Homo sapiens: one gene and its partners. The protein of the gene in region 4 purifies or fractionates together with the protein of the main gene of each other region. This does not show direct contact. Each region holds a gene or a part of one and is shown on either strand. Other genes may lie near its edges.

Region 1 (7,021 bases), on a different chromosome or scaffold from region 4:
TCCTTAATAAGCAGTAATTATAATTACAACGGGAAATAATTTCTTTAAGTACCCAGTGCAGTGTCACTGTCAAATAAACATCAGTGGCTTTGGCCCCAATTCTTAAGGTGGCAAACGCCGCTGCCCCACTCCCCACCCATCCCCAATAGGGCTTGAGCACCTGTAGCCCTGCTGAGCACGTCTGTGCAGCCCCAGCCCTCAGCATCTCTTCCACTCGCTTCCAGCTATATCTTTTCCCTTTCCTTCTTAATTCAGGAGGCAGCTTTGCAACCACAGGGCCCAACGATAGAGACTGTGAGGTGGCATTTTTTTTTTTTTTTTTTTGAGACGGAGTTTTGCTGTTGTTGCCCAGGCCGGAGTGCAATGGCACGATCTCAACTCACCGCAACCTCCGCCTCCTGGGTTCAAGCAATTCTCCTGCCTCAGCCTCCCAAGTAGCTGAGATTATAGGCGCATGCCACCACGCCCGGCTAATTTTGTATTTTTAGTAGAGATGGGGTTTCTCCATGTTGGTCAGGCTGGTCTCAAACTCCCGACCTCCGGTGATCCGCCCGCCTCGGCCTCCCAAAGTGCTGGGATTACAGGTGTGAGCCACCGCGCCCAGCCTTGAGGTGGCATGTTTTCAAAGAACATGGTGCTCAGTTTTGGACACACAGGAACTCAAATACAATCATTTTCCTGCTGCTAAGTAATGCTTGGTGGCTGCTCTGGTTGCAGATATGTGAAGTTAGGTAGCCTTTCCTGTTAACCCATGGTTCCAAGCACTCTCTCTTAACAATCATTCCTACTGTGAATTTTCTACCCGGAAAAGCCAGGGGTGGGCAATAACAATTAAGATCATTTGGTTTCTAAAAGTTCTTCCTCTCTGGGAAAGCAGAACTATACAGTGGGTGGCATCCTGCAGATTCTAGTCTACATTTGGGAAAGGTGTACGCCTCTTGCACTTTCAGAGGAACAAGTCAAAAAGTAATTGCTTAAAAAAAAAAAGTGCTAGCAATTCACAGCCTATTCCTGCCCGCTGAACAGAAATTGTGATGCCTTGATTTACCCCCTAGCAGCTACATATTCTTGAGCAAGTCATAACCCTATTGTGCCTCAGTTTCTGGATCTGCAAGGAGTGTTGCCTGCATAAATGTTTGTTTAGGAACTTAGTAAAATGACATACTCCTCTCTCTGCTCTAAGAAGGCCATGAGCCAGCTGCAGCTCATCTCACTCAGCCTGGGCCTGACCAGAGTCCTTTCCTCTTCCAAGAGAAAGCAAGGAAAAGCAGCAAGCAAGCAGACATACCAGGTCAACAGGAGTGATCTATCATTGGCAACGAGGCCTCAAACAAACTGCAAATGCTCTGGCTTCAGCACCTTATCCCCAAATGCCACAAACCAGACATGGAAGCCATGCAAGAGTGACTATCACACACACACACAGGCACAGACAGAGTACCACCAAGCAAAAAGGGGGCTAATACTGCAGAGATGGCCCCAAAGTGCAGCTTGAGGAACACAGCAAGTCATCCCAAGACCCTCACTTAGCTGCCAAAGAAACAGCAAACACTATCAGCTTTGCTTCAGTCTTCTGAAATGAAAATATTAATAAGGAAGACTCACTAATACTTGTGGCAAACACTATTAGCAGGGATGCAGGGTGTCTCCTGGGCTGCAGGACTCCATCTGCTTCAGCTGAACTCTTGGAAACTACAGATGAGAGATATATGCATACGCACACACATATATGCGTATCTGTATGCACACAGATGTATTTAAATGAAGGTGCATACACTGTGCTAAAATACAAACAACAGAAATCAAAGGTCATATATAAAAACGCTAAATATGACATATAACACAGGCCTAGAACCAGCTCTTGGTTGGGAGCTGGGGAAAGGGGTGGTATCATCTGAAGACTATGTACACAATTTGTGGTGGGCAGGGAAGGCATCAGTGTAAACAACTCAGACTCACTTCACAATACTGGCCCACAGGTAAGTGTGATGTATCTCATGTACAAAAATAGACTCCCACCTTGCTTTTGTACAAACCAAGCTTGGTAGGCACCCAGGAGGACCGTGGGTTTGTCTTGATGACAGGGCACTGCACCAGGCTGCTGCTAAACCTTCCAGCCCTAGGAACTCACCTGCTACCCTCCCGCTACCCTCCCCTTTCCCTCCCTTTCAGGCCCTTGGGTCTTTTTCCCACCCAACACCTACAGCCCGAGGCCTGCCCAACCACCTAGCCTCACACGACTAACTGCAGAAACTAACTGCATGGCTTCCTGCAAGCAAGGTCCTTCTGTATCTGTCCCTTTCTCTGACCCCAAGATATATGAAAATGTTTCTGTAAATGTTTGGCACCTAAGAAACATGATGGTTGTGGATAATGCCACAAGTACACAGGGAGACCCAGTAACAAGACATGCAGGGTGAGGGCAAGCGGCTGAGCTGCCCAAGCATTTCAAAACCAGGACTTTGGCTTCCCATGCAGTTGGAGGGTAGAAGGGATGTGCGGAACTGATGACTTCACCGGCTCCTCAGCAGCATGTACATTCAAATTGAAGATGCTTGAGAGCCCCACTATACCAAATCGTGAGTCTGGTCACTCCTCCAGCAGAGCTTGGTGCAGTGACAGTTAGAAAAGCTGAGTTCCAATTGAGTCTGTTGCACCAAGAGTCCTTTTGAAGACGCTCATCAAAGTAATTATTTTCTTTTGAGCAGATGTACAGCACATCCATGGGAAGGCCATGTAAAAGGATGTTCTCCAGCCCAGTCAAATGATCCAATCCCACTATTATCTCAGTTCCCTCTGAGTTTCTTCCTGCTGGCCGCCCTCACTATACAGAAATAGCCAAGCAGCAACAGGGTCAGTCATCAATGGTGGGCAACCAAAAGGCCTAGAAGGAGAACATAAATCAACTTTAAAAAGCCAAGCATCTCCTCACTGCCAACGGTTCTTCACATCCCACCCCACAGCAAAAATGTGCCCAACCCCAGTGGCTCTGGTAGCCCTCTCTCCTAACCAACCAACCCCGATGCTCTAAGGAGACAGAAACACTCTTTCCTCTATGTGAAAGTAAAATGGTTCTGTTTTTCTCCAATAATCACTGTCCACCTTCCACCAAAGCAGACCCCCCGCCCCCTTTTTTTTAAAGGAAGGGAAAAAAAGGAGTGCTGCCTGGGAGGTGGGTGAATAAGTAACCTGTCCTCATTGCTAATCCACCAGGTTACCTCCAACAGGCCCCCACCTTCCTGGGCTGTAAAAAGTAAGGAACTGGATGGTTTTGCTGTATTTTTTCTAACATTTTTTTCTTGGTTAAAAAAAAAAAGCAAGGTGGCAATGTGCTCCGGGTAGGCTAGTAATGAAATGTCTCATCCCCGAATACCCAGGCAGGTTTAGGAGATCACAAGGGAAAACTGGAGCTGAGACTCACTGATCCTTTGTTCTGTTAGTATTATCTAGGAAGAGATAAGGGCCTGGAGTTAATTCTAAGTGGTGAGTTATGACCAACTGTAGAAATTTCTGGGAATTTGGCGTAAACCAACAGGAATGGAAAACTGAAACCACAAAAGGCCGGTTCAGAGTATTTTAAGGAGCAAAAAAATTGCCAAGCATAGCCCAGGTAGTTTGGACCTAAAATTAGGGTCCAGAGCAAAAACTGGCCTATGATCTCCTTGGAACTCAAAGATGATTCCTGATCACCTCTAGGAAGAATAAAAATGAAAGGCAAGACCAGCCCAGCCAGAGATCAAATAATAGGAGATGAAATAGGGAAACCACCAGTTGAGAAACATGTACTTGGATGCTTGTAATGTACCTATGTAGAACACAGCTTGCTGTGCTTGTTGAGGCACCCACCACCCCAACTGGGAAGGGTCCCTGAGTAGCAGATACCTCTTACTGTTCACATACCATGTTGGAACACGCACTGGCAAAAGTCATGAACTTGGGGTTGAATTGCAAACAGGTAATCGGGCCTGTGTGTTTACCATCCAACACAGCTACTTTTATACCGCTCTCTCCATTCCAGACATGGATCTTGCCATCCTCTGAACCTAAAGAGGATATTCACGGAAAATGTAACAGCTCAAGGCGCAATACAAAGACAACTGGAAATGAGACATGGATTGAGATCTGAGGATACGCCAAGCTTTAGGACCCATCCCTCAGGCAAAATTGAGAGGGAGGAGAGGCAGTGAAGGAAGGACACTTTGGAAATTTATCTTGACCCTAGCTATTTGTTCACAGGCATGTCACTTCCGTTCTAACTTCAGTTTTCTCATCTAAAAAAGGGGCCGAATACCATTACCCTACCAACAGGCAGCCACTAAGATGACTGAATGTAGGGTTACACCAGGACATTAGCATTACTAATAAGGTAGTGCTTGTGGAGTTTAACTCAAATTTTGGTCCAGTCAGGGCAGTTAAAAGACACTATGTCCTTGGCATAATGTGCTATACAGAAATCTAAGAACATCTATCAAATAGATAATAATGTCTCAGTTAATAATTTAAACAAAGAAATGCATAGTACCAGAGAAATAACCCCCACAGGGGATAAAAGGAAACTCACCAATCATAATAAACTGAGAGTCTGGAGTAAATGAAGCCTCCAGTGTGACAGCTTTGCTGTTGGCATAACCCTAAAACAAAACAGAGCAGTTCTTTTGTTCTTACAGAGCCATTAATAAAAACAGCTGCCTACAAACACTGACTCAGCACATGCATCACCTTCCTTTCCATGAAACCCTTTCCTTGTCATGTACTACACCACCAAGCTTCCAAATGTGGTTGCCATCGTTGACAATCCACTCCCACCCTCAACTCTGTATTCAAGGCATACTCAAGGGGGCAAGAAAACTTTATTGTTAGGAAATTATTTTATATCTAAATACCAAACTTGGGTCACTTGGTGAGAAATGAACATCTACGAAATCCAAGAGAGGTAAGTTCATGAGCAGGAAGAAAATACAAGTGCATGCCTTCATGAGTAAGTCAAGAGTAACTGTTGGTCTCCACCAACCAGCTAACATAATTCTTAGCATAGGAAGTATGAGCATGGAAACAGCCATGCTTGAAGGCTGTCAGCTCACCCCAAATGTGTGCATCACCACTCCTTTGAATGCATCAATCAGACGAATGAAGCTGCCGTTGGTGGAAATGAGGATGAGCTTGCCATCATTGCTGAATTTAAGTCCTGTCCACTCACAAGTTCGATCATACTGCATCTTAAAGGTAGCAAATGGCCCCTGCAAAAGATAAAAAACAGTAGCCCCAGGCATATTAATAATTTCTTCTGCTAGAGCCAATTCCCATCCTATTCCTTTAGATTACTTTTTGACTAAGGAAAGCAGAGAATGAGCTACTTCTCTGCCACTCTCTAATATCTACCACATTTTTCCTTTTGTAGAAAAGGCTCTTACAGGGCCGGGCGCGGTGGCTCACGCCTGTAATCCCAGCACTTTGGGAGGCCGAGGTGGGTGGATCACCAGAGGTGAGGAGTTTGAGACCAGCCTGACCAACATGGTGAAACCCATCTCTACTAAATACAAAAAATTAGCCAGGCGTGGTGGCGGACACGTGTAATCCCAGCTACTTGGGAGGCTGAGGCAGGAGAATCACTTGAACCTGGGAGGCAGAGGTTGCAGTGAGCTGAGATTACACCACTGCACTCCAGCCTGGGCAATAAGAGCAAAACTCTGTCTCAAAAACAAAACAAAACAAAAAACAGCTCAAAGATCTCAAAGATTCAAAGATTTACCTTATCAAAAGAACGAAGGTCATAAAGCTTGACCATTTCAGAGTTGACACCTGCAGCGAAAATTAACCCTTCTGGATCAAAAGAACAAACTGGCTTCCCCTGCAGATGCATGAGGCCCTAAGAGAAAAGAAATAAGAAATACACTAAAACACACATGCCACAACCATACGTGGAATAACCAAAGACTGCTGGTACAATGGGGAAAAAAAAATGAATCCAGGACCTTACCACTATATAATTTACTTTTCCCAATTAAAACTAAGAAAGGCATACAAACAAATATCAGCCTACCTACAGAACACACACAAAAAAAACATAAAACTAAAATGAAGCTTTTAAAAAACAGGTCTCCAGACAACAATTTCTGATCAACTCTAACTGCACAATATTACAGACACAGAATTCAAATAAAAATAAATCCCTTGAAGCTAAAAGCTCTAGGAACACTTTTAAAAACATTAAGCCAGCTGGGCGCAGTGGCTCACGCCTATAATCCCAGAACTTTGGGAGGCCAAGGTAGGAGGATCACCTGAGGTCAGGAGACTAGCCTGACCAACATGGAGAAACCCCGTCTCTACTAAAAATACAAAATTAGCCAGACATGGTGGTGCATGACTGTAATCCCAGCTACTTGGGAGGCTGAGGCAGAAGAATCGCTTGAACCCTGGAGGTGGAGGTTGCGGTGAGCTGAGATTGCACCATTGCACTCCAGCCTGGGCAACAAGAGCGAAACCCTGTCTCAAAACAAAAACAAAAACAAAACAAAACAACAAAAAACCCACAACAATTAAGCCACAGAGTACAATGCAATCTGCACTAGATTAGGGTATGTGCTTAGCAGCTACCAACTAAAAAAACAGATTTTCTCCAAAGTTTAAAAAGACCCTGTGATCCCAGAATGGAACCACTGTTTTCTCCCTTCTTTGAGAGGTAGAGTTCATTACAGTGCCTACCAAAGAAAATGCTCAAAAAGTATAACTGTGAGGTACCATTACCTGGCAGTTAGGAGACCGGAGATCCCAGAGTCGAATGGTCTTATCAAGAGACCCAGAAATGAAAGTGTCATCCACAGGTGACATGGACAAGGCCACCACCCTGCAATACATCGAGATAAATAGGAGTTGATGCGAAATATTAGCAAAAATTGGATGTGAATTCTAAACCACTCTGCCTATCTATACATATATATACCTGTTCTCCCAAAATTGCCATTTTAAGAAACACAATAAAACACACATACCACAACCATATCTGGAACAAACAAAGGCAACT
Region 2 (6,973 bases), on a different chromosome or scaffold from region 4:
GTTTCCCAGGGGACCCCGGTGGGCTAGGGACCGAATGACATCTCCCCACAAGCTGGCTGGCCCTCAAAGCACTCGGCACCTTCTTTTATAGGTGGGAGCTTCCCTAAAGAGGCCTCAGGCACACTTTGGGGAATGCCCTCGAGTCCTCCAAGCCCCTTGGTCCTGCAGGGGCCTCCGAAGACCCACAGGGTGGGAGGTATGGCCTCCCCAGCCAGCTCCAGAGAGCACCTAGCTGATTCCAGAGCAGGGGAGGTGCTGCGGTCTCTTTAAGAGAGAGGAGGGAAGACACAGTGTCAACCCTTGAGCACCCAGAGCCGCCTGCCTGGCTCTTCCCTCTTCCCGGCTCTGCTCTTCCCCGGCGGCTCTGTCGAGAACCTTATCAATGAAACAACACTCCTGGCCCCAGATTGGCTGCCACTTCCAGAGGGGAAGGGGCAGCAAGGAGGTGGGGGGACACCCTGGATCCTTAGAGGACTCTCTTTTCAGTTTTCAGACCTTCTCTTGATGTATTTCAAGGCATCCTAGTGGCACTTCCTCAGTCCCCCACAAGTAAACAAACTCTGTCTCCTCCCCTAACACAGGCAACACTGGGGACTGTCTAAACCCAAGCCACCAGGGCTCAGAGAGGGGGCCCGCGGGGGTGTCAGCGGTGGGGAAGCCTCCGGGTGGTCCCTAGGGGTGCGGTGGCCAAGGACCGGCACATTTGGTAAATTACAGACTGTCTCCTAGCAACAGACAACACATTTAGCTCCACGCGACTCTACCCTCAGGAGGGGGCTAAGAAATAAGGTTGTGGGGGGGGATCCCAAGGAAGAGTGAGGGGGGGTCCTCCCCACGCTGCAGGAAGGGTGGGGAGGGAAAGGGTCGGGCTGACAGGTCTCCCCACGCTCCTCCCCTGCCAGGCTCACCTTTGGTGTCCAGCTCCACGTGGATAATGTTGCCCATGACGGAAGTGCTGTGCAAGTGCTGAACGGCATCCTTGGCTCCCCGGACCGTGGCAAAGACCACCTTGGCGATGCCCAGGTGCTTCTTGGTCTTGGGGTTGTACAAAATCTCCACCTCCTCCACCTCCCCATACTTCTTGCACATGTCCCTCAGGAAGTTTTCACGGATGTTATCATTCAGCTTGGCAAATGTCACCTGCTTCGGAGGCACCGGGCCCACGTAGAACTCATCGATCTGGCAGGGGCCGAGGGGGAAGGGAGTTTGAAGAACGTTTAAACCTAAGGGAAAACACAACATCCCCCCCGCCCCGCCCGCAACTCGCCCACCCGTTGAAAACAATAAAGGGTAAAAAAACTAAAAATTAAAAAAAAAAAAAAAATTTTTTTTGGAAAAAAAAAATGCACGCGGGCGGGCCCGGGAAGCGGAGGATTAAATCGTTTGGAACGTGGAAGTCCTCTGGGTTCGGAAGGAAAGGGGAAAAAGAAACAGTTTCTCTTTCCCCACCCCCCTTTCTGGCCTTCTCTTCCTGCTGCCGGGTCAGGGGCGACCCCTCAGGCTTAAGAAGTTGTCCTGTAGTGGGCTAGCGAGAGGGGAGAGTCTCGGAGCCGAGCCCCCCGCGGGGCGTGCAGGACACTGTATCTGCGCCGTGATTACAGTTTCACCCAGTGTTATTTTGTTTTCAGTAGCTGAGAGGGGACACCCTCTCGCCAGCGCTCTACCCCTCCCCGCCAAAACTTCCCTGGCCCCGGACGGCGGGAACTGGGAATCCGGCTGGGCTCGGTCAGGACTGGCGTTATTTTCGAACTCGGGGAGGTGGGGGAGGGACGGCGGGGCAGTGGGGAGGGGTCCTACCTTGAATTTGGGCACCGACAGCTCCAGCTCCTTGTTTTTGGTCCAGATCCCGACGACCCGGGGATCTTCGACAATTTCCACCGGGCGGTTGCTGGACATCTGTGGGGAGAAATTGGGGGGCCGGGATGAGAGAACTGGTCCCCCTCCCCATGGGCAGACCCCTTTCTCGAGGCACTTGTCAAACTCCAGGGCTGGGGCCCCGTCTGACAGTTGGCCGGGGGATCGGGCGGGGGGTCCCTGGCCGCTAGGCGCGTCTCCCCGGACACGACGCGGGGCACGGCTGGGGGGGCGCGCCGGCTACTCACCGCCAGGCTGAAATGCTGCCCATCGTAGCGGTACAGTTTATGATGCCCCTTTTTCAGAGCCGGGTCAATCATCAACTTGTAACTTCTCCAATGGTGGTTCCTCCTCTCGCCCGAAGGGCCGGGCTGCGGCGGGGGCTGCTGGTGGTGGTGGTGGGGGGGGTGACTGTTCTCCATGCCGTTAACCCAACCTGAAAACCAGCAAGTTGTTGTCGTCTCCGCCGCGGCGGCGGCGGCGGCCGCTTCTACACACACGCGAAAGAATCCAATCGGCAGGCCCCCACCCCCTCCCACCTTGCCAGCGCGCCCCGAAAGGAGCTGTCTCGCTGGCTCCCCCCAAAACAAGAATGGAGCGAGAGAATAACCCTTCCGGGAGAATTACGCGCCCGCCCGCTCGGCCACCGTCTCGGGGCGGCAGCGAGGGGCTCCCGGGGGTCCCCTGGGCGGGCTGGCGGGGCCCGGGGCGCCCGGAGGACGCGGACTCCGGCCCATGGTGCCCGCCCGGCCGCCCGGCGTGGCGCTCACCCGCTAGCTCGGCCCGGCTCTGGCGCGAGGCTGGCGGCAGGGCCTGGCGGCGCCGCCGCCCGCCCGCCCGCTCGCCCGCTCGGGCCAGGGCCGGGGCCGGGGGCTTGGGCCGCCCGGCTGCCGGCCGCGGCCTCTCCCTCCCCGAGCCGCGCTTACATCCCCGCCGGGCGCCGGCCTCCCTGCGCCGCCAGCCAGTACATGGTGTCCCCCGAGGGAGCCGAGGCCGGGGCGGCCGGACCGGGGGCCAGGAAGGGGGGGCGCCGCCGCCGCGGCTGCCGGGCCCGGAGCTGCTGCCGCTGCCGCCGCCGCTGCTGCTGCTGCTGCCCGGGAGGCGGCTGGCGGCGGAGGCTCGGCTCCCAGTAGCCGCACATCCCACAATACACCGCTAAGGAGCCCGACCCGAGCGCTCACCCTCCTCCTCTTCCTCCTCCTCCTCCTCTTCCTCCTCCCCTCTCCTTCCTCGCCGCTTCCCCAGGCACTCTCCCGGCGGCGGCAGCTGCGCCGCCAAAGCCCCGGGCCCCAGCGGCCCCCCACCCCTCACTCGCGCGCTCCCACACTGCCTCCCCCTCCCCGGGGGAAGGCCTTTTAATTTATTTATTTTTCTGGGACTGGGGTGGGGGTCTTGGCTGGCGGGGGAGGGGGTCTCCCCGGGCTCTACCTCCCGCGGCCGGGACTACCCTCAGAGCCGCGACCGCCGCGGCGTGCGTCCCGGGCCTGCAAAACTGTTTCCAAACTGCCCGGGCCGGAGGCGGGCGCGCGGGGCCCGGGGAGATGGCTGGGGTCTGGGGGGCCGAGGGTGTGTGTGGACGCTGGGAGCCGCGGGGGGAGGCCGGCGTCGACTCAGAGGAGTTGCAATCGAGGTATCTGCGCTCCGGCTTCCTCCTGCGGCCCGCGACCCCCTCCCCGGAGCTGAGCTGGGGAAGGGAGACCAGGGTTCACCACGTTAGCATTCGCATTCCTGGGAGGATGCAGCCCTCGCCTGGACCTGGGCGATAGACGCCTTCTTCTGTTTTTATTTTTGGAGGGGAGCGCCCTGTAATTGTCCTGAACACATGCTTCCCCCCCTTCCTCCAGCCACCCGCGGAGGAGAGAGTCCCCCTTTTTTGCATTTATCTTTTCCTTCCCCTTTCTTTATTAAAGGTCCGGGAGTGGCGGCGGCCAATCAGCGCGCGGCTTCCATTTTGTGAGTTCAACTCCGAGGCTCCCGGGCTTCGCGAGGACGCGTTTGCAGCCCCCTCTGCCGCTCCTCTCTGGCGGCCGAGGCGCAGGAGCCGCCTCGCCGGGGCTCGGAGCTGGTGTAGCTCATATTGGGGCTCTTTTCGGGGTTTGTAATTTGGCCGTGGGTAGGTAATTGGCTGGAGCAGGGCGGCAGGGCGCGGCAGCCAATCAGCGCGCGGCTTCTATAGGGCTTGAGTTATTAGACGCTGATCTCAAAACATCCTTCATCAGACACGAAGGAGAGGCCAACAGATGAGGGAAGCCATTTTTCTGCAATGGAATTAAATGGCCAAGTGGGTTTTTCCTTTGTTGCAAATGGGGAATGTTTTTCCTTTGACTCTACCATCCAGTTCAGGACGTCTCAGTGTGTTTAACATTTGTCAACAGGCCCAAGGACTCACAGTTGGAAGACTGGAGAAGACTTTTTAAAAAGATCTGGATTTTTCCTTATGACTTGGAATCCATCTTTGTCTTGTATAACTAGGTCATAGCACACCATTCATGTCAGCAGTTAACAGTTTTGAATTCCAAAAAAACCTAAGTAAATGACATATTTTTTTTCCTCTTTTTGTTCTATGGGTGGGTGGGGGGAGCTTGGAGCTGTCTTAATCTGTATTCTCTTGACTGAACAATAAATTTTTAAATATATCTAGTTTCCTCTATTAAACACTTAAACCTGGCCATCTTATTAACTCCTTCTCTCTTTTTAACAAGGTAATGTTTTAAATGTATATAGCTTTAGGACTAGCGAAATGGCAGCAACAAAAAATTGTGAGCAGTTGTTACTCTTTTAGTTTTTAAAAAACCTTTTACATTGTAAGTACCCAATCCATTCTGTCCTGACGCAGTACAGTTTTGATGTTAATGTTGCTGAGATGTCCTTAATTTTCCGAACCTTCATCTGCATGTATGTCTTTGTCTCTCTTGTCTAATATAAGCCAGTTAAGATGCTTGAGACGATCTTGCTTTATAAAGCTAAGGTTCTAGCTTTATGCTTTTGAAAATGTTTACAGCACTAAATGCTAGTCAGCTTTCTTCCCCGTAGCTTGTACACTTTCTTTGAAAATCGATCTATTTGAAGAAAAACAGCCCTGTTTTTCTCGTCTTTGGTGTTGGGGGTTGGGGGGAGCTGGTGGGTGAGGGAAAGGAAGACCTTTTCTTTGTGTAGAGAGACTAAAGCCGTCACAGGAAACTAGATTAAAACTGGAAAACAAGTCCTAGCTGGTTCCAGCAAACACCAACGTTAAGTGGGGGGTATTTTCTATGGTGGTTGGGCGGCTGGTGCGTCTTGTGCCTTTTGTTTGATTTGACTGTATTTTCGCCTTTTGTCTCTTAATGACGATCACACCATTGCTATATCCAGAGCAGTAAACAGTCCTCAGCGAAGCCGCCTTTTTGCCTACCCAACCCTGGAAAGTTTGCAGAAGTGGAAGGAGCAGAACGTGAGGGTGTAACTTACAAAAAGGTAATAAGAACAAAGACACCACCATAACCCCCAAATTTCCCAACTAAATCAAAAAATATATATGTTTTTACAATAACGTCTCCAAAACCACCGCCCAGCTTGATCTTCTAGACTCCATGGCACCGGGCTGAGCGGGTAAGTAAGAAAGATAAAAAGTGCCTTTTGCCCCTTCGAGGAAACCCTTTTGCAGGCCAAGCAAGGGCTGCAAGTGTTTGGGAGCTGAGAGGAGAAGGAGGATTCTGGAGCATTGTATTTGGCAGCCGGAGCGGGCAGTGGGCGGGGGGTTGGGACACGAAGGGCTCTTCGGACCCCTGTGCCTCTTCTGCCCCAAGGGCGAGAAGACGGGCTTCGCAGCGACCCTCGGGGGTCCATGGAGCCGCCTGCCTTCGCCCCCTCGCTCTTCCCAGGTCTGAACCTGGATGGGGAGAAGAAATTGAAGTGCTTTGGAGACGGGGGGGCTTAAAACACTAGGGAGCCTCATCGCCCAGCCTTGGGCCCACTTTCCTTTCGATCGTGAGGATTCCGCACCCCGAAGCCGGCTTCTCGGGGCTCCGGGGCGCGCCTGCGCTGGCAACGCGAAGGAGGACAAAAGGCCGGCGTCCATGTTGGCACCATGACGCAGCATCTCCGCCCGCAGCCCGGAGCTGCTGTCCTCCCGGCCGCGCTCGCTCCTCCTCCCAAACACCAGTTTTCTTTACAGGCTTCGAGCCCGTCGCGGCTGGGCCGGGCTGGTCTGGCAGGCGGGCCCAGCCGGGCAGGGCTGCTTTGCTAATGGCGGCGGCTCTCTTTCCTTCCTTCCTCCTTTCCTCCGTCCCCCCGGTCGTGGGGAGCCCGGAGCAGGAGGCGGGCCCGCGGCCAGGTCGGGCCCCGAGAGCCCGCGGGGCGCAGCGCTGGCGACCGGGTGTCGGGGGCCGTTTCGGGGGCCGTGGGCCTCGGGGGCGTCGCGCGCCGCGCCTCCCGCGCTCGCCTCAGCCGGGCGCGGCGGCCTGATGGGCGCCATTTCGCGCGCTGCCCGTGGCTGGGGCGGTGGCGGCCGCCGCGCGCCGGGCGGGAGGAGCGGCAGGGGTAGGGGGCTGGGCGACCCGGCGGCCCACGCGGGCACCAGGAGGCCTCGCCCCGGACCGCTTCCCTCTTTCGTCTTTGTCCTGCGCGGGCGCCCGCAGCCGAGGGCCACGGGGTCGGCGGGGCTTCGAGGCCGCCCCGGGTCCCACCGGCTCCTCCGGAAGCCGCGGACCGGCCTGGCCCTGACCCCAGGCCGCCCCCCGCTGCCCACCCAGCTCTGGGCGCCCAGGTCCGACCTCCCAGTCGCCCTCTGAGAGCCGAGTCAGCGCGGGGCGGGGGGTCGCCCCCTTTGTCCTCACTCAGGGCGGGAGGCCCTCGGGGTGGCCGCAGACGCCCCGTTGGGCAGCCCTCCAGCCCAGCTCTCCAGGCAGGAGGTGGGGGAAGCCTGGGAAAGCGGAGGGGGGGCCCCGGGATCCCCCGAGGCGCGGGGCTCCCGGCGAAGCCTCAGATCTCCGGCCCTTCCCGGGGAGGGTGCGGGCGGGGCGGGCCTTTGGAAATGCAGATGAGCCGCCGCCCGGGCCGGGGTTGAACCTTCTGACTCAGCCACCCCCGGCCGCCCGGGCCGCTGGGGGAGGGGCGGCGTCTGGGGTGCTCCCTTTCAGCC
Region 3 (7,496 bases), on a different chromosome or scaffold from region 4:
TGGTGTAGCAGCAGACTTTGGTACTTCTCATCCTGGTTTAAACACACTAAACTGGATGACAGTTTTGCTCTTAGCACCTGGCAGGTATCAAATGTCTTCATTCTTAAATATGCACGTGACAGACATAATCCACTATAACTCTATATGCTACAAGTTAAGACTTTTTGACAGAAAGCAGGTCAGTCTTTGAGGTTCAAGTGGCAGATGAAACTCAAGGATTCCATTAAAGTGATGGTTCTTTGCATGAACAGGGAATCTTCTACTTTGGCCCACGGTGGCCAGGCATGAGCCACCGGGCCTGGCCATACTGTTGCTTTTTAAAGTTCCTGCATCTGTGGCTGAATATGTCTTATTACTAGAAGAAGGGTTGATCATCAATTCTATTCCTATTTCTAATTTTTATAGTCATGCGCCCTGAGAAACCTTGTTCATATAAACAAGTACTGTGCCTCGGAATGGAAGAGTTTTGTTGTAACAATATCATTCAATTCTTGACCTCAAAAAAGAGGCTAAGAACATTAAAATAGGTTCTTATTCCATGGTTCCTGAACTCACTGAAACTGTATATGTTATTAGATTGATTCTCATGAAATTGCCTATAGTTGACCATTCTGAAGTAGAAAAACAGCGTTTTAATGTGTTACTTGCGCATTTTTCTTGAGAGAAGGTCCTAACTTTCATTAGATGATCAGAGATACTGTGCTTCCCTCCTTCCCTCCAAAAAAGGTTTTAATCCTTTACTTTGAAGGGTCTGGCAGGGATATTATAGACACATACCAATAACATTTTGTGGGAATAGGATAATAAAAAAGTTGAGCCTCAGACATTGCAGCAGTACATTACAATTTTTAATTTGTATACATAATGATTCATGGGTTTCTGAGAACACACAGATTCATGGGTTTCTGAGAACAGCAAAGTAAAAATTCCACTTGTTGAATACGAATAACTAACTTTATTTGATAACATTTACCTGGCCATGTCTAACCTTTTCCCATTAAATAACAACAAAAATAATAAAGGCAATAGAAATTATTTCTAAAAGGTAGCAGTGCATATTCCTGAAGACAAAAGTAAAAAAAACTATACTTCCTAAATAGATGAACACTCCCAAGTGAATTGAATTCTCTGTGGTGCAAAACCTCCAATATCCCGAAAAACCACGTTTTACATAGTGGGCCCAGTATGAGTCCTTATAAAGGAAGATGTACCAGGATATTCAAGAGTTTCCCCAGAAGACATAGTGGAACTGTGTGCAGTTCACCTGAAAGCTTTAGAAGAAACTGTGGATGTTGTAAACATGCATTTCTCAAAGATACAAAGCTCCTCAGAACAACTAAACATACTATGAGAAAACCCTCGACCGGGCGCGGTGGCTCATGCCTACTGGGCGAATCACGAGGTCAGGAGATCGAGACCATCCTGGCCAACACGGTGAAACCTTGTGTCTACTAAAAATACAAAAATTAGCAGGGCGTGGTGGCACGCGCTTGTAATCCCAGCTACTTGGGAGGCTGAGACAGGAGAGTCGCTTGAACCCGGGAGGCGGAGGTTGCAGTGAGCCGAGATCACGCCATTGCATTCCAGCCTGGCGACAGGGCGAGACTCTGTCTCAAAAAAAAAAAAAAAAAAAAAAAAGGAAACCCTCATTTCATCAAAACTCCAATCCAATGGACCCAACCAGATTTAACAAGCAGACAAAAACAACCCCTACAAACCAGTTAATTTTCCAACATGCTTTCTGCTTCCAGAATTCTAGACTGTACTGTGGTTTTCCATCCATCTCACTGACTGCTCTTTCCTGGTGTCTTTGGCTAATTCTTTGCCAATCCAGCTAAGTTTACTTGTTCCTGCTAATGTCCCTTTCACTCTGACATTTGGTACAAAATCCCTTCCCCTTTCCAGCCTCTCTTTCTGGACAGGGAACCTTGTTGCTGTCCTTTCCCTTCTCTACATTACTCTCCTGAATCTGCTCTCTTTCCTGTCCTTTCTCCACTTCAGTATCTGCTGTCACCTCTCCTGCATCTTTTCTCCACTGAATGACTCGGTTCTCTCTACCCCACCTTCCTGTCCCTTCTTACCTTAGAATGGTGACATGGCCTAAGTTACCTAAATCAGGCAATCACTGCTAGAAACAATACTAAAGTCCTGTCTCAGGTTTGCCTCCTTATCTTTGCGCTCCCACCCCCACGATGTCCAGCAAAGCATATTACACATAACTTGATTCAATTACCATTTAGTCATTTCTCCAAAGGATAAAGGCCCTTACCGCCCAGAAACCTTCAAGAAAGAAGGCAAACATAACTTCGATACAAAGTAAAATCATCAGATATGAGAATGAATACAAAACTGGCTACTGTTAGCGCCACTGTTTCCAAACCAGTTCCTGTAAGAACAATGCCTTAGTCTTGCTCATCAGACCGGGGTAATCACTGTGCCGAAACCATGACTGGCACGTAGTAGGTACTTAAACACTAGTCGGTAAAACGAACCAAAGGACACGCTAAGGAATGAACACTCTGTGCTTTGCACAGTCCGTGGCACACAGCTGCAGCTCCAAGAGGAAGCCACTGCAAAAGAAGCGCGCCCTTGGGTCCTCCCCTTCCCTCGCAGACCCCCAAACCCGGCGCGCTCCTAACCTTGGTGTCCACGTCGGCCAGGCAGTCTCTGCGGAACTGGTCGAAGAGCCCCTGGCTCTTGAGGTGGTTCACGATCATGGCCACGAGCTGCGGGTCCCCGGCGCCCGCACCCGCGCCGCCCGCCCCGCCCGCGCCGGGGCCAGCCCCGGGGCCCGGCGGCGGCGGCGGTGGCTGCGGCTGCGGCTGCGGCGGGGGAGGCGGCGGCGCCGGAGGAGGCGGCTGCGGCTGTGGGTTGGTGGCCATGGTGGCCTGTGCCGGGGAGGGCAAGGGCCCTGACCGGCGGACGATCCTGGGAGGCGGCGGCTGCACTGGTCCCGCCGCCTGAGGGAAGCCAACGGGATGTTGTTACGGAACCAGCGGATCCAGAGCAACCCCGGAAGTGAAAGGGAACTGGGGGAAAGGAGGAAAAGACGGTGACAACATTGACGAAAGTCCGGCGACGGAGGCCGCGAAGAGCCAGTTTCGACCGTCGCCGGGCGCAAGCGCCCTCGCGAGGCCGAGCTGCGCCGGAAGTGGCGGCGACTGTGGCGACGGAGACGACAAGACTGTGCTGGTCGCGGGTTGTGGGGTTTAGGTCACCGGCAGGGGTCTGGAGTCCCTGGAGGTTAGGGCTTCGACCCGCGCGACACCTGGGGCCCTAGGTCTGAGCGGGGGCAGTGCGTTTCTGGCCCCGCTTCATCCGCGACGGCATTTTAGGCCTGCCTCTCTTGCTCCAGTTTCCCGGAGCAGTGCATAGAGATCCATAGACATTTGTAATGCGAACCCTACGTGGATCTGCTCATTCTAACTTCGCCCAACCCTCTTCGTTCTTAGCCTGTGATCCTGCACTATTCTTGTCCCAGCAGGTAGCTCCAAGTTCCTTCTGTCTCTCTTCTGCCTGCACATACCATTTCCCCGTGGGGGTCCCTTGTTTCTGGCAGTGTGCCTGTGGATTAGATCCGATCCCTCCAGCCCGTTCTTCCTATCTGTGAAGACAAATCGACAGGCTTTTATTTTTAGGAGATTTGCTATTGATTACTATGATTATAGCAGGTAAAACATCTATAGCACATATTATGTACCAAGCGTGGCGTTAAGTGCTTTTACATGTATTAACGCATTTAATCTTTGGACAAACACTAAGAGCTAGGTCTGATTACTGTCCCCAGTTTGCAAATCAGGGAACCAAGGCTCAGATAAATTAAGTATGTTGAGTAAGATTACACAGCTAGCAAATCACCTGCTTTTGGACTGCATCATCTTTGAAATTATTATTAGTACGTGGTCAAAGCAACATAAATATTAGAAAATTTCATAATTACTAAATAGTGTGTGTAACTTTATTGAAAAATGCATATTGTTGCTTTTTAAAGTTCCTACATCTGTGGCTGAATATATCTTATTAGTAGGAAAAGAAGGGTTGAGCATCAATTCTATTCCTATTTGTAATTTTTATAGCTGTGTGCCCTGAGAAACCTTGTTCATATAAACAAGTACTGTGCCTAGGAATGGAAGAGTTTTGTTGTAGCAATATCATTCAATTCTTGACCTCAAAAAATTAGATTTGATTATCTATGAGCTGACTTCAATTAGGCCCTCCTTCTATTTTATGGAAAGCAAAGAGCTGAAAACCACCTGGCTTGCCAAAGGATTTGTTTACTTAATCCTTATTTTTTCACTCTTTCAGATTCTGGGAAATATACCAGATAGGTTTTACCAAGATACCAAATGACTATGAATTAGACCTGATTTTTTCAATGAGGTGTACCTTTCACCTGATATACTGAAAGTTTGGAGAATATCTAAACATTTTTCATTTTCATAAATAGTTTTGGATAAGATTTATTTTTGTTATCAGGTGGTTAAATTATGTTTTTGTCAAAATTTGCAACTGCAGATTTAGCTCATTCAAGTTCAAAATCTTTGTCACTGGGCACAGTGTCTCACGCCTGTAATCCTAGCACTTTGGGAGGCTGAGGCGGGAGGATCGGTTGAGTCCAGAGTTCAAGACCAGCCTGGGCAACATGGCAAGACCCCACCTCTACAAAAAAATAAAAGAAATTAGGCGGTGTAGTGGCGTGCACCTGTAGTCCTACCTACTTGGGAGGATTAGGTGGGAGGATCACCCGAGCCCAAGAAGTCAAGTCTGCAGTGAGCCATGATGGGGCCAGTACACTCCAGGTTGAGCAACAGAGTGAGACCCTTCTCAAAAACAAGAAAAAAAAAGGTTTGTTAAGAATGTTAAATGTTTACCTTATAACCTAATTAACAGAGCCCATTTTCATTGTCAAACTAGACAAATCAGATTTACTTTAAATCAGAAACAATTTGACTTCATTGTTTCAATTCAGAGTATCCTGTGTGTTTTGAGGAGTTTGATGAAGATAGCAGAGAGGAGAAAGTCATGGATATGAATCTTAAAAGATTAATTACTATATGCAGTCAAGGCTGGGCGTGGCAGCAAACCCCTGTAATCCTAGAGCTTTGTGAGGCTGGGGCAGGTGGGTGGCTTGAAGCCACAAGTTCAAGACCAGTAACAAAACAAAACAAAAAAGTAACCAGGTGTGATGTTGCAGACCTTGAGAAACTGAGGTGGGAGGATTGCTTGAGCCCAGGAGGTTAAGACTGCAATAAGCTATGGTGGTGCCACTTCATTCCAGCCTTGGTGACAGAGTGACACCCTGTCTCAAAAAAAAAAAAAAAAAAAAAAGCAGTCAAGATTACAAGACTAAAATAGCGTAAAATATAAATGTTTTATTCATTTTAAAAATTAGTTATGAGCCGGGCGCGGTGGCTCACGCCTGTAATCCCAGCACTTTGGGAGGCCGACATGGGCGGATCATGAGGTCAGGAGATCGAGACCATCCTGGTTAATACGGTGAAACCCCGTCTCTACTAAAAATACAAAAAATTAGCCAGGCGTGGTGGTGGGCGCCTGTAGTCCCAGCTACTTGGGAGGCTGAGGCAGGAGAATGGCAGGAACCCGGGAGGCGGAGCTTGCAGTGAGCCGAGATCGCACCGCTGCACTGTAGCCTGGGCGACAGAGTGAGACTCTGGGTCTCAAAAAAAAAATAAAAAAAAATAAAAATTAGTTATGAAAAGGTGAGACTATAACATTTACTTAATTACCAACAATACAATATAATATATGTTGCTATATTCTAAGTTTATAAGTTTTTAAGTGTGTGGTATGATAAAAAGACATGGTATTTCTTTGGTATATTTGGATGTGTGAATCAAATTTATTCAGCTTTTTGGGAATAACTAAGTAGAAATCATCCATAAAAGTTCTGAAAAACTTTACAAATTTAATTAGGCATAATGTCCAAGTTTAAAAAAGTAATGAGACAATAAAGTATTTACTGCTAAAAATGAATTGGGTCAGTGGCTAATAAATAATTTGTTTTGTGAACAGTATATAGAAAATCTTAAATATTTTCTACAATGCAAGAAGATGAGAACTTTATAATGGTTCACAATCCATTTTCTCAAATGTGCCCTAATTGCCTTATTGAATAACACACACTGAATCTAAAAGATACATCTTTGTATCTCTGAGTTCAAGTTACACTGGGTAGACACATTATACTGGTTGCAATGTAACTTGAACAATTTTGTAGCCTTGAAAAACATTCTAGATACATTGAAAAGAATCTGGGTCACCGATCTGCACTGCCTTGGCTGTTCCAAGGTGATTTTCTTTTCGTATGAATACAGGTCCTAGGGATGAGTGTTTTAAATACCCAAAAAACAACAACAAAAAGCATACATTTAAATCTTTTTAAAAGACTGCTTTAAGCAGTCAGCATTTCCTACCAATGACGTCTTTGCTGTGTTTCCTCCTGATTGTCTCTCTAGAAAAGAGTATATAATTTCTTTTTTTTGGTAAATTATTTTATTTCTTCCATGATGATTTAGAGGGACTATATTCAAACCAGTACAAATATTTCATAAATAATATCTTGCCATTTTCTAACCAATTGAGTAATTTGTTCCACAATAAGCTACCTCACATTTTTCAGCAAGAAATACGTTAAATTTGAACAGTAAAGACATTACATAATGAATTAGGACACAATTAAAATGTGCTTTAAATATTTCTTTAAGGGAGAAGACACCACACTTCTACTCAATGAAGATAAACTTTTTTTTTTTTTTTTGTGACGGAGTCTTGCTCTGTCGCCGAGGCTGGAGTGCAGTAGTGCGATCTTGGCTCACTGCAAGCTCTGCCTCCCAGGTTCACACCATTCTCCTGCCTCAGCCTCCTGAGTAGCTGGGACTACAAGTGCCCGCCACCATGCCCGGCTAATTTTTTTTGTAGTTTTAGTAGAGACGGGGCTTCACTGTGTTAGCCAGGATGGTCTCGATCTCCTGACCTCATGATCTGCCTGCCTGGGCCTCCCAAAGTGCTGGGATTACAGGCATGAGCCACCTCGCCCAGCCGAAGAGAAACATTTTTGCAGTCCAGAGGTCTTTTATTTTTTTAACACTTATTTTGCCATGAATTCATAGGGAATAGATTCCAGCAGCTCAGTCTCCTTCCCATTGGTTCTCACAAACTGTGCTTCCCTGGGTGGAGCAGGCTGGCACTTCAGTTGAACCCAGGTACCTTTCTCTTTGTTTTCTTTTTCTGGTCATTTTCCTTCATGTGTTTCAGGAAGCTATCTCGGCTCTTAGTGAGCTTAATGTGCTCGATACGCACATTAATTCTCTTGGCAAGAATCAGGCCCTTGTTGGTATACAACAATGCCAGCAGCGTGCTGGGTAACATTGTAGACTCTTCTAGTTGTGCCATGGTAACACTTGTGGGGCATTCCTTTTTGAACAGTAGCCATTCTCTTGATGTCTACAATATCACCTTTTTTTTTTTTTGAGACA
Region 4 (7,429 bases):
CCCTCAACCCCACCCTCTGCCTTTCCACATCCACTTTACCCTCTCCATCACCTTCTTCTCAGACTTCTTCTCCCGACGCTTCACATGCTTCACTTTCACTGCCCTCTTCCGCAGCGCGGGGTCCAGGAATGGGGACTCTTCTGTGTCGCTCATCCAGGGCTGCAAGCAGGGCATGCACTGACCCACCTGCCCCGCTCGTGACAACCCCACCACCTACTCATGTCCCATATCAGCCTTCCATACCCTCTGTCTCCTCATTAGGGATACTCTCTGCTTCTGTAACCTCCACCCTTCCACCAGTGGATGCTCCTGTCTGCTCACCAGGCCATGGTCATCAAAGGCCCCTGCACAGAAGTCCTGATACAGGTCAGGATCCAGAGGTAGGTCCTCATCTGAGAGTGGCTCAGGTGTGGCTGTAGCCTCAGGAGGCTCCTTGACTGTTGATGACGCCACTGCCCCCTCATCTTCACGGATGCGCCCTAACTTCTGTGATGGCTGTGGCTGCTGTTGGGTGGGCAGTGGCCGGCGGGGCCTTGGCAGGGACTCTGAGGGCGTCACTGGTGAGAGCTGCAGGGCAGAATCTCAGGACTGGCCCTGACCGCCCTGCCCGCATGCCCCACCCCACCCTGGGGGGCTGGACTCACCGAGGAAGGGAAGTACTTGTACGATTCCTGTGCCGGCAGGAGGAAGGCCCAGGTCAGCCCCAGGTGGATGGAGGGCGGCCTTGCCCTAGCCCTACCCACCTGGCCTGGCCTTACCTCCCCAGACACACCTCCCCGCTACCCCTCATTGCCAGGAATGCTCAGCCCTGCCTGATCTGTACCAACATGCATGACCACCTGAAAACACCTGGCCCCACTCTGTCTACCCAGGGTTGGTGGGGGTGTTCTGCCAGCCCAGCATACCAGGTCATGCCCCATTCATCTGGACATGACAGGCCCCTTCCCACCTGTCAGGATACAGTCAGGCCCAATCCCACCTGGTTTATCCATGCCTAGACTTAACTAACCATGCATGGACCCACCAGCTCTCCCACACCTGACCCTACCCAGCTCTGTCCATGCTCACCCGGGCCCGCAGCTGGCACTGGCGCAGCCGGCACTTCTGCCGGATCTTGTTGGGGCCCCCGAACTTCTTCATGTCCCGACAGAAATCACAGTGACCACAGTCCTCAGTGCGCCGACATGCCTCACACTCACCACACATGCGGGCTGACCGTTTGATCTGCTGCTGCTGCTGCTGGTGATGCTGCAGGAGGGGGCCCAGAACAGAAATCATGGACCCAGGCAGGGCTGAAACGGAACCACTTTACACATCCATTCACTTTATGCAGCCACTCACCTGGCTGGGTGTGGCCACCAAGGGCTGCGGAGAGGATTTGTGGGGCGAAGCAGAGCCCCGAGCAAGCATGGCCCCAACCCCTGTCCCTGACCCTGCCCGGCGCTGCAGGTCTGGATCAGGGACAGGCCTCTTGCGCCCTCCACCCTCATCCCGGGGCTCACTGCTGTCCCGCTCATTGCCATCCCGCTCCCGTGACTTCTTGTGCCGATAGCGAATCTCTAGCTTGGGGTCTTTCTCTGTGGGGCAGAGAGTAGGGCCAAAGTGAGTGAGCACTGGATGGCTTGAATGGTCCCAAAACCTCTTTCTTCCTCTTCGCTCCCTTACTGACCCACCCACCTACTCTGCACCCCTGTCCAGGGCAGAGCTGCCTCTTCCCGTGGGATCTTCTATTACTCACAATGGAGCCCCATTCCAGCTCACCACAGACGTGTATCACTAATCCCCATAACCCCCCCTTGTGGCTCCTCCTCCTCCCTTGAAGCCCCACCTGCCTTCCCTGTCCATCCATGGCCCTCACCTCTGCACTCCCGACAGTACCACTCCCGGATGGCCTTGGCCATCTTCTCAGTGATCCGGATGCAGTCCCCATGGAACCACTCATTGCAGTTGTCACACCCGCTGCAGAGGATGGGGCAGGCGATGGAGATGTGAGGGGCGCGGCCCATCGGCCTCACCCCACCCTGCCAGTGTCAGCCCCGCCCATCTCTCCCGCGCTCACATCATGAAGCAGTTGATGTCCGGTTTGCGGCAGATGCAGTAGATGGGCGCATTCTCCCCATTCTCGGACTTGCTGTCCTCCCCGGCATCTGGAGGCTCTGGGTCTGAACCATCTCCCTCCTGCAGGACACCCCCATTACGGATCCTTAAGCAGCCCCCACCGTGGCGGCTCATCCCCCCATTACAACTCCACCGTGGTCAGCAGGGATCCCCACTCTGCCTGCAGATTTCACATCGGGGCCCCCAAAAAACCTCTCCATCACAGTCCCCACTGACCCCCATCCCTTCCTCTGACATCCTATTACTCTGCTCCATACTTCCCATCACGCACCCACCGACACCCGCTCCCTGCGTCCACACTCGCTAATGGGTCATGGCGACCCTCCATCGTGGCGCCTCACAGACCCCGCGTAACTCACTGCGGACTTCCCATCGCGGTTCTCCACGCACCCCTCCCTGTTTATCTCATAGACCCACCTGGCACCCGCACCCACCCCCAGTCGCGGCTGTCCACGGATACCCGGACACGGACTCCTCGTCACGGCTCACTACAGACCACTCAATGTGACTCCTTACAACCCGCTTATCCCTCTGCCCTAAGAACCCCCGATCATGGTTTCCCACGGAACTGCCACACGGAGTCCCCACTAAACTTCTATTAAGGAGCCCCCCACCGTGGCTCACCATAGAACTCCCAGATGGTTCATCATTCTGCCCATAGACTCCCGCCGTTCAGTCCACAGACTCCGGTTATGGCTCACCACAGACCCCTGAGTCGGCCGACAGACCCCACTGTTGCCAACCGACCGACCTCCACCGCCGAACCCCTCCCTGGACCCGCTACTTACCATATCTCCGCTCCCGGCGCACTCCCTCACGACCCCCGCCAGCGACCCGCGAACCTGCACAGACCACTCGGCGGCGTCCCAGGCGGTTGCAAAGGCGCCCACAACTACTTCCGCTTCTAGTCACGCCTCCCAGGCAGCGTACTCCTATTGCGCAGGCCCCATGCGTCGTCTCCGCTGCAAACCAGTAGGTGGCCGGCCTAGAGCCCCCAAGACCCCTCAGGCGCCGCCATCTTGCTTATCGTATCCGTATGGTGGCCGAATCCATATGTTCGCCGGGAACATGGCCGCGCTCTAATGTGGCTTTCCCGAGGGCGCCGCCACCTTGTCAGTAGAGTCCGTACGGCGGCTGCTTGTACGGCCTCGACGTACAGGCAACATGGCTGCACCTACTGCGTGACTTCCTCATAGATGCCGTCATCTTGGAATCCGATTCCGTACGTGGGTCGAATTCCGTACGTTCCTAGGCGACATATGACGGCGACCTAATTGCGGATTCTTCACGGGCGCCGCCATCTTGGTGGTTGATTCCGTACATTGCCCGTTTGTCAGGCAGAGAGGTTCACAGGTAAAGTGACCGCTTCCGAAGCACGACCTGGATCAAGTTGTATTCATTCCTCCATTCAGTCTCTTTCCCCTTCCACATGTATTAATGGGGCGTCGGCAGGCTGTGTGCCTTGCGGGGCGGAGGAAACCAGTTCCTCTGTCGTCTCCGACTTCACCTGCCACCACTCTTTCCGGCTTTTACTCCTCCCACTTGTCATTCTTCTGCCAGGCCTGGCACGGTTCGGCTTCTATTTATTTTATTTTTATTTAAAAACAATTCTTAAACTAATATCAAATCTTATTTTAGTTCTATAAGCTGCACAATAAGCCTAAACACAGTTTACTTATCCATTTCTTTATTGTTTAGCATTTAGAACATTTTCAAATATTATTCTAAATAAAGTTGCAACGAACATTCTTAAACATAGATCTGTATGCTCATCCCTGATTATTTCTTGTGAAATGTGATATACAAATTTACAAATATACAAATGTGATATACCAGGTGTAACTCTGGTTAACAGCTGTAAGATGGAGCCTGGAAGCCAGGCTTTATTTATTTATTTATTTATTTATTTATTTATTTTATTTATTATTTATTATGTATTTATTTATTTATTTTTATTTATTTACTTATTTTTTGAGACGGAGTTTCACTCTTGTTGCCCAGGCTGGAGTGCAATGGCGCGATCTCAGCTCACTGCAACCTCCGCCTCCCGGGTTCAAGCGATTATCCTGCCTCAGCCTTCCGAGTAGCTGGGATTACAAGCATGCACCACCATGCCCGTCTGATTTTTTTTGTATGTTTAGTAGAGATGGGGTTTCACCGTGTTGGCCAGGATGGTCTGGATCTCCCGACCTCAGGTGATCCGCCCGCCTCGGCCTCCCAAAGTGCCGGGATTACAGGCGTGAACCACCGCGTGCCTGGCCCGCCTGGAAGCCATTCTATGGACTCCCTGCAAACTTGCAAAAAGGAAAACAAACAAAACAAAATTAAAACACAACAGGAACTTGCCTCGAACCTTTGAATTGGTCCAAACTGCAATGACCACACAGTCCTGGAAACCAGCTATATTTCACTAGTGCTGCGTCTCCTGAACAACAACCAATGAACTATGGACTGATGCCAGCCAGCCGCCTCCACCAATAATAATTTCTTTAAAAGAACTTGTGTAATCACCCTTAGCTTCCTTTTTCTTTTTCTTAAAAACTCCTTCTCCCCTTCCTATCTTTGGAGTACAATTTGACTTCGAGCTGAATCTGTGTCTCCTGAATTGCAGTTCCTAATGCCCCAATAAACTCCTGCATTGCAGCTTGGTCTCTTGCCTCTTCTTAGTTGACTCTCCTTAGAGATAAAATTCTAAAAGTAGAATTACTTTGTAATTGGCTATAAATATTGTAAGACATGTTCAAATTTATAGGAGGTCATTAGTTTGGACAGAGCTCCTGCTCTAGGCCCCACCAAAATGGAGTCACTCACGCTGAAGTTCCATGCCACCAAGCCAAAACTAAATTGTTCATCTGACCTTCCAAGGAGAAAGAGACAGGATAATAGCCAAATCCCCATACAAGCCACTTTTAGCTTGAAAGTCCCCTTTGCTTTAACCTTTATAAAAAAGCAACCTGAAGCAATCTGATGTTAACCAATCAGCTTTAAAAAAAAAATTGTTCTTTTTCCTTGCTCCAACCTTACAAAATTCACTGCTCTGCTATTTCCCAGGAAAAGCTCTCGTTCTATTTTGTATAATGGGATCTGCCCCAATTCATGAATTGCAAGTAAAAGCCATTACATCTGTAACTAAATTTGTTGTAATTTTGTCTTTCAATGGTTGATACATATATTTCTACCAGCAGTGTATGAAGGTTCCTATATCAGAGCCTTATTAGGTTATTAGATTAGTGCGAACTTTTGTTGTTGTTGTTGAGACGGAGTCTCACTCTGTCACCTAGGCTGGAGTGGAGCGGGCAATCTCGGCTCACTGCAACCTCCGCCTCCTGGGTTCAAACAGTTCTCCTGCCTCAGCCTCCCGAGTAGCTGGGATTAGAGGCCCGTGCCACCACACCCAGCTAATTTTTGTATTTTTAGTAGAGATGGAGTTTCACCATGTTGGCCAGTCTGGTCTCTAACTCCTGACTTCAAGAGATCCACCCCCACCTTCGGCTTCCCAAAGTGCTGAGATTACAGGCGTGAGCCCCTGCGCCCGGCCAGTGCAAACTTGTAAATTCATCACCCTTGTCAGTAAAAAACTGTCAGCATTCACAGCCATTTTATAAATACTACACATTACCACAGCAATATAGTGCAAAAATCAGAAACCACATAAAATACATATTTAAAGGAATGAGATAAAAATAAATATAAACATCTCTCATATTTTCTCAAATCCCCAGCACCATCTGAAATGCTGCCCTTGAGGAGCTCCCAGTTTACACTATTGGTGCTCACTTTGATCTGTGTGCAGTCTGGTATGGACATGGTGAAGCAAACAAAGATTAGTATTTTGTCAAATAGTAAATTTTTCATAAGTCTAGCTTGATGATGATGGTAATAGTCATAATTTTAAAAATCTTCTATTTGGTTAATGGTTGATAGTTCGCAAGATACTTTCGCACATGATAGTTTATCTGATCCTAATTGCCTTATACGGTGAATGGAGCAGGAGCCTTATTGTCCCCACTCTGCAGTGAAAGCAATTGAGACTCAGGGAGCCTAAGTCCCTTGCCAGGTCACACAGCCAGTAATAATGGATCTGATATTAATAGTAAAATCTTCCTACTGTGAGTGTTGGGCTGTGGGCTGGAATCAGGGAATAGACTCAGGGAAGCCCCAGGACGAGAGAAGCTAGATAAAAAAGTTCATGAGGCAAGCACAGAATGGAGCAGATTCTGAAAGCTAAGGGTCACAGTGGACCTGAGTTCAGGAAATGGATCAGAAGTCCAGGGGATCAGACACCAGGAATCAGGATTAGGTTCTTAGGCAGGAGAACAAACAACACAGAATGAGAAACTAAGTACAGGATCTCAGCACAAGGTGGGGATCACAGGAAAGGGAAAGGAGAGCTCAACTCTACCAAAGATTCCTGGGAGGGGGACGGAAGTCTTCCAGACACTTCTTGCAAACAGCAAGGATGACATAAATATCCGAAATTCAATGACAAAACCATGCTTAGCACTTCAATTCTAATTTGCCAGCAAGCACAGACAAAATCAGTACTGGAATCATTCGCTGAGGAATATACACAGTCTTGCTTTCTGAAGTTTTAGTTACCCATGATCAACCATGGTCTGAAAATATTAAGTAAAGAATTCAAGAGGGCTGGGCACAGAGATTCATGCCTGTAATCCCAGCACTTTGGGAGGCCGAGGAGGGAGGGTTCCTTGAGCCCAGGAGTTTGAAACCAACCTGGGCAACATAGCAAGACCTCGTTTCTACAAATTATAAACACTTAGGCCGGGTGCAGTGGCTCACGCCTGTAATCCCAGCACTTTGGGAGGCTGAGGCGGGCAGATCACGAGGTCAGGAGATTGAGACCATCCTGGCTAACACGGTGAAACCCCGTCCCTACTAAAAAATACAAAAAAGTAGCCAGGCGTGGTGGCAGGTGCCTGTAGTCCCAGCTACTCAGGAGGCTGAGGCAGGAGAATGGCATGAACCCAGGAGGCGGAGCTTGCAGTGAGCCGAGATCACTCCAGCCTGGGTGACAGAGTGAGACTCTGTCTCAAAAAAAAAAAAAAAAAAAAAAAATTAGCCGGGCATGGTGGCACGTGCCTGTGGTCCCAGCTATGCAGGAGGCTGAGGCAGGAGGATTGCTTGAGCTCGGGCTGTCCAGACTGCAGTGAGCCATGACTGCATCACTGAACTCCAGTCCAGATGACAGAGCAAGATCCTGTCTCAAAAAAGAAAAAAAAAGAAAGAAAATTCCAGAAATAAACAATTCATAAGTTTTAATTACCATGCCATTCTGAGTATTGTGATGAAA

The links.
Region 1: the proteins of CXXC1 (region 4) and WDR82 purify together in Homo sapiens (affinity purification with western blotting; 7 studies listed by BioGRID and IntAct, with this or other methods). This does not show direct contact.
Region 2: the proteins of CXXC1 (region 4) and SETD1B purify together in Homo sapiens (affinity purification with mass spectrometry; 12 studies listed by BioGRID and IntAct, with this or other methods). This does not show direct contact.
Region 3: the proteins of CXXC1 (region 4) and BOD1L1 purify together in Homo sapiens (affinity purification with mass spectrometry; 6 studies listed by BioGRID and IntAct, with this or other methods). This does not show direct contact.

Annotation. Positions count from the first base shown.
Region 1 is NC_000003.12:52,254,636-52,261,656, forward strand, and holds part of WDR82 (WD repeat-containing protein 82), read right to left. Parts: intron 6,845-7,021; coding exon 6,745-6,844; intron 5,867-6,744; coding exon 5,750-5,866; intron 5,238-5,749; coding exon 5,082-5,237; intron 4,632-5,081; coding exon 4,562-4,631; intron 4,044-4,561; coding exon 3,901-4,043; intron 2,885-3,900; coding exon 2,855-2,884; 3' UTR 1-2,854. UniProt on the Homo sapiens protein: Regulatory component of the SET1/COMPASS complex implicated in the tethering of this complex to transcriptional start sites of active genes.
Region 2 is NC_000012.12:121,800,041-121,807,013, reverse strand, and holds the start of SETD1B (histone-lysine N-methyltransferase SETD1B), read right to left. Parts: upstream 3,006-6,973; 5' UTR 2,781-3,005; intron 2,641-2,780; exon of another isoform or gene 2,625-2,640; intron 2,291-2,624; 5' UTR 2,277-2,290; coding exon 2,103-2,276; intron 1,897-2,102; coding exon 1,798-1,896; intron 1,180-1,797; coding exon 909-1,179; intron 1-908. UniProt on the Homo sapiens protein: Histone methyltransferase that catalyzes methyl group transfer from S-adenosyl-L-methionine to the epsilon-amino group of 'Lys-4' of histone H3 (H3K4) via a non-processive mechanism.
Region 3 is NC_000004.12:13,624,706-13,632,201, forward strand, and holds the start of BOD1L1 (biorientation of chromosomes in cell division protein 1-like 1), read right to left. Parts: upstream 3,021-7,496; 5' UTR 2,883-3,020; coding exon 2,640-2,882; intron 1-2,639. UniProt on the Homo sapiens protein: Component of the fork protection machinery required to protect stalled/damaged replication forks from uncontrolled DNA2-dependent resection.
Region 4 is NC_000018.10:50,284,681-50,292,109, forward strand, and holds the start of CXXC1 (CXXC-type zinc finger protein 1), read right to left. Parts: upstream 3,013-7,429; 5' UTR 2,910-3,012; coding exon 2,907-2,909; intron 2,829-2,906; exon of another isoform or gene 2,746-2,828; coding exon of another isoform or gene 2,743-2,745; intron 2,179-2,742; coding exon 2,060-2,178; intron 1,960-2,059; coding exon 1,859-1,959; intron 1,578-1,858; coding exon 1,342-1,577; intron 1,249-1,341; coding exon 1,069-1,248; intron 672-1,068; coding exon 645-671; intron 568-644; coding exon 322-567; intron 160-321; coding exon 52-159; coding exon of another isoform or gene 40-51; intron 1-39. UniProt on the Homo sapiens protein: Transcriptional activator that exhibits a unique DNA binding specificity for CpG unmethylated motifs with a preference for CpGG.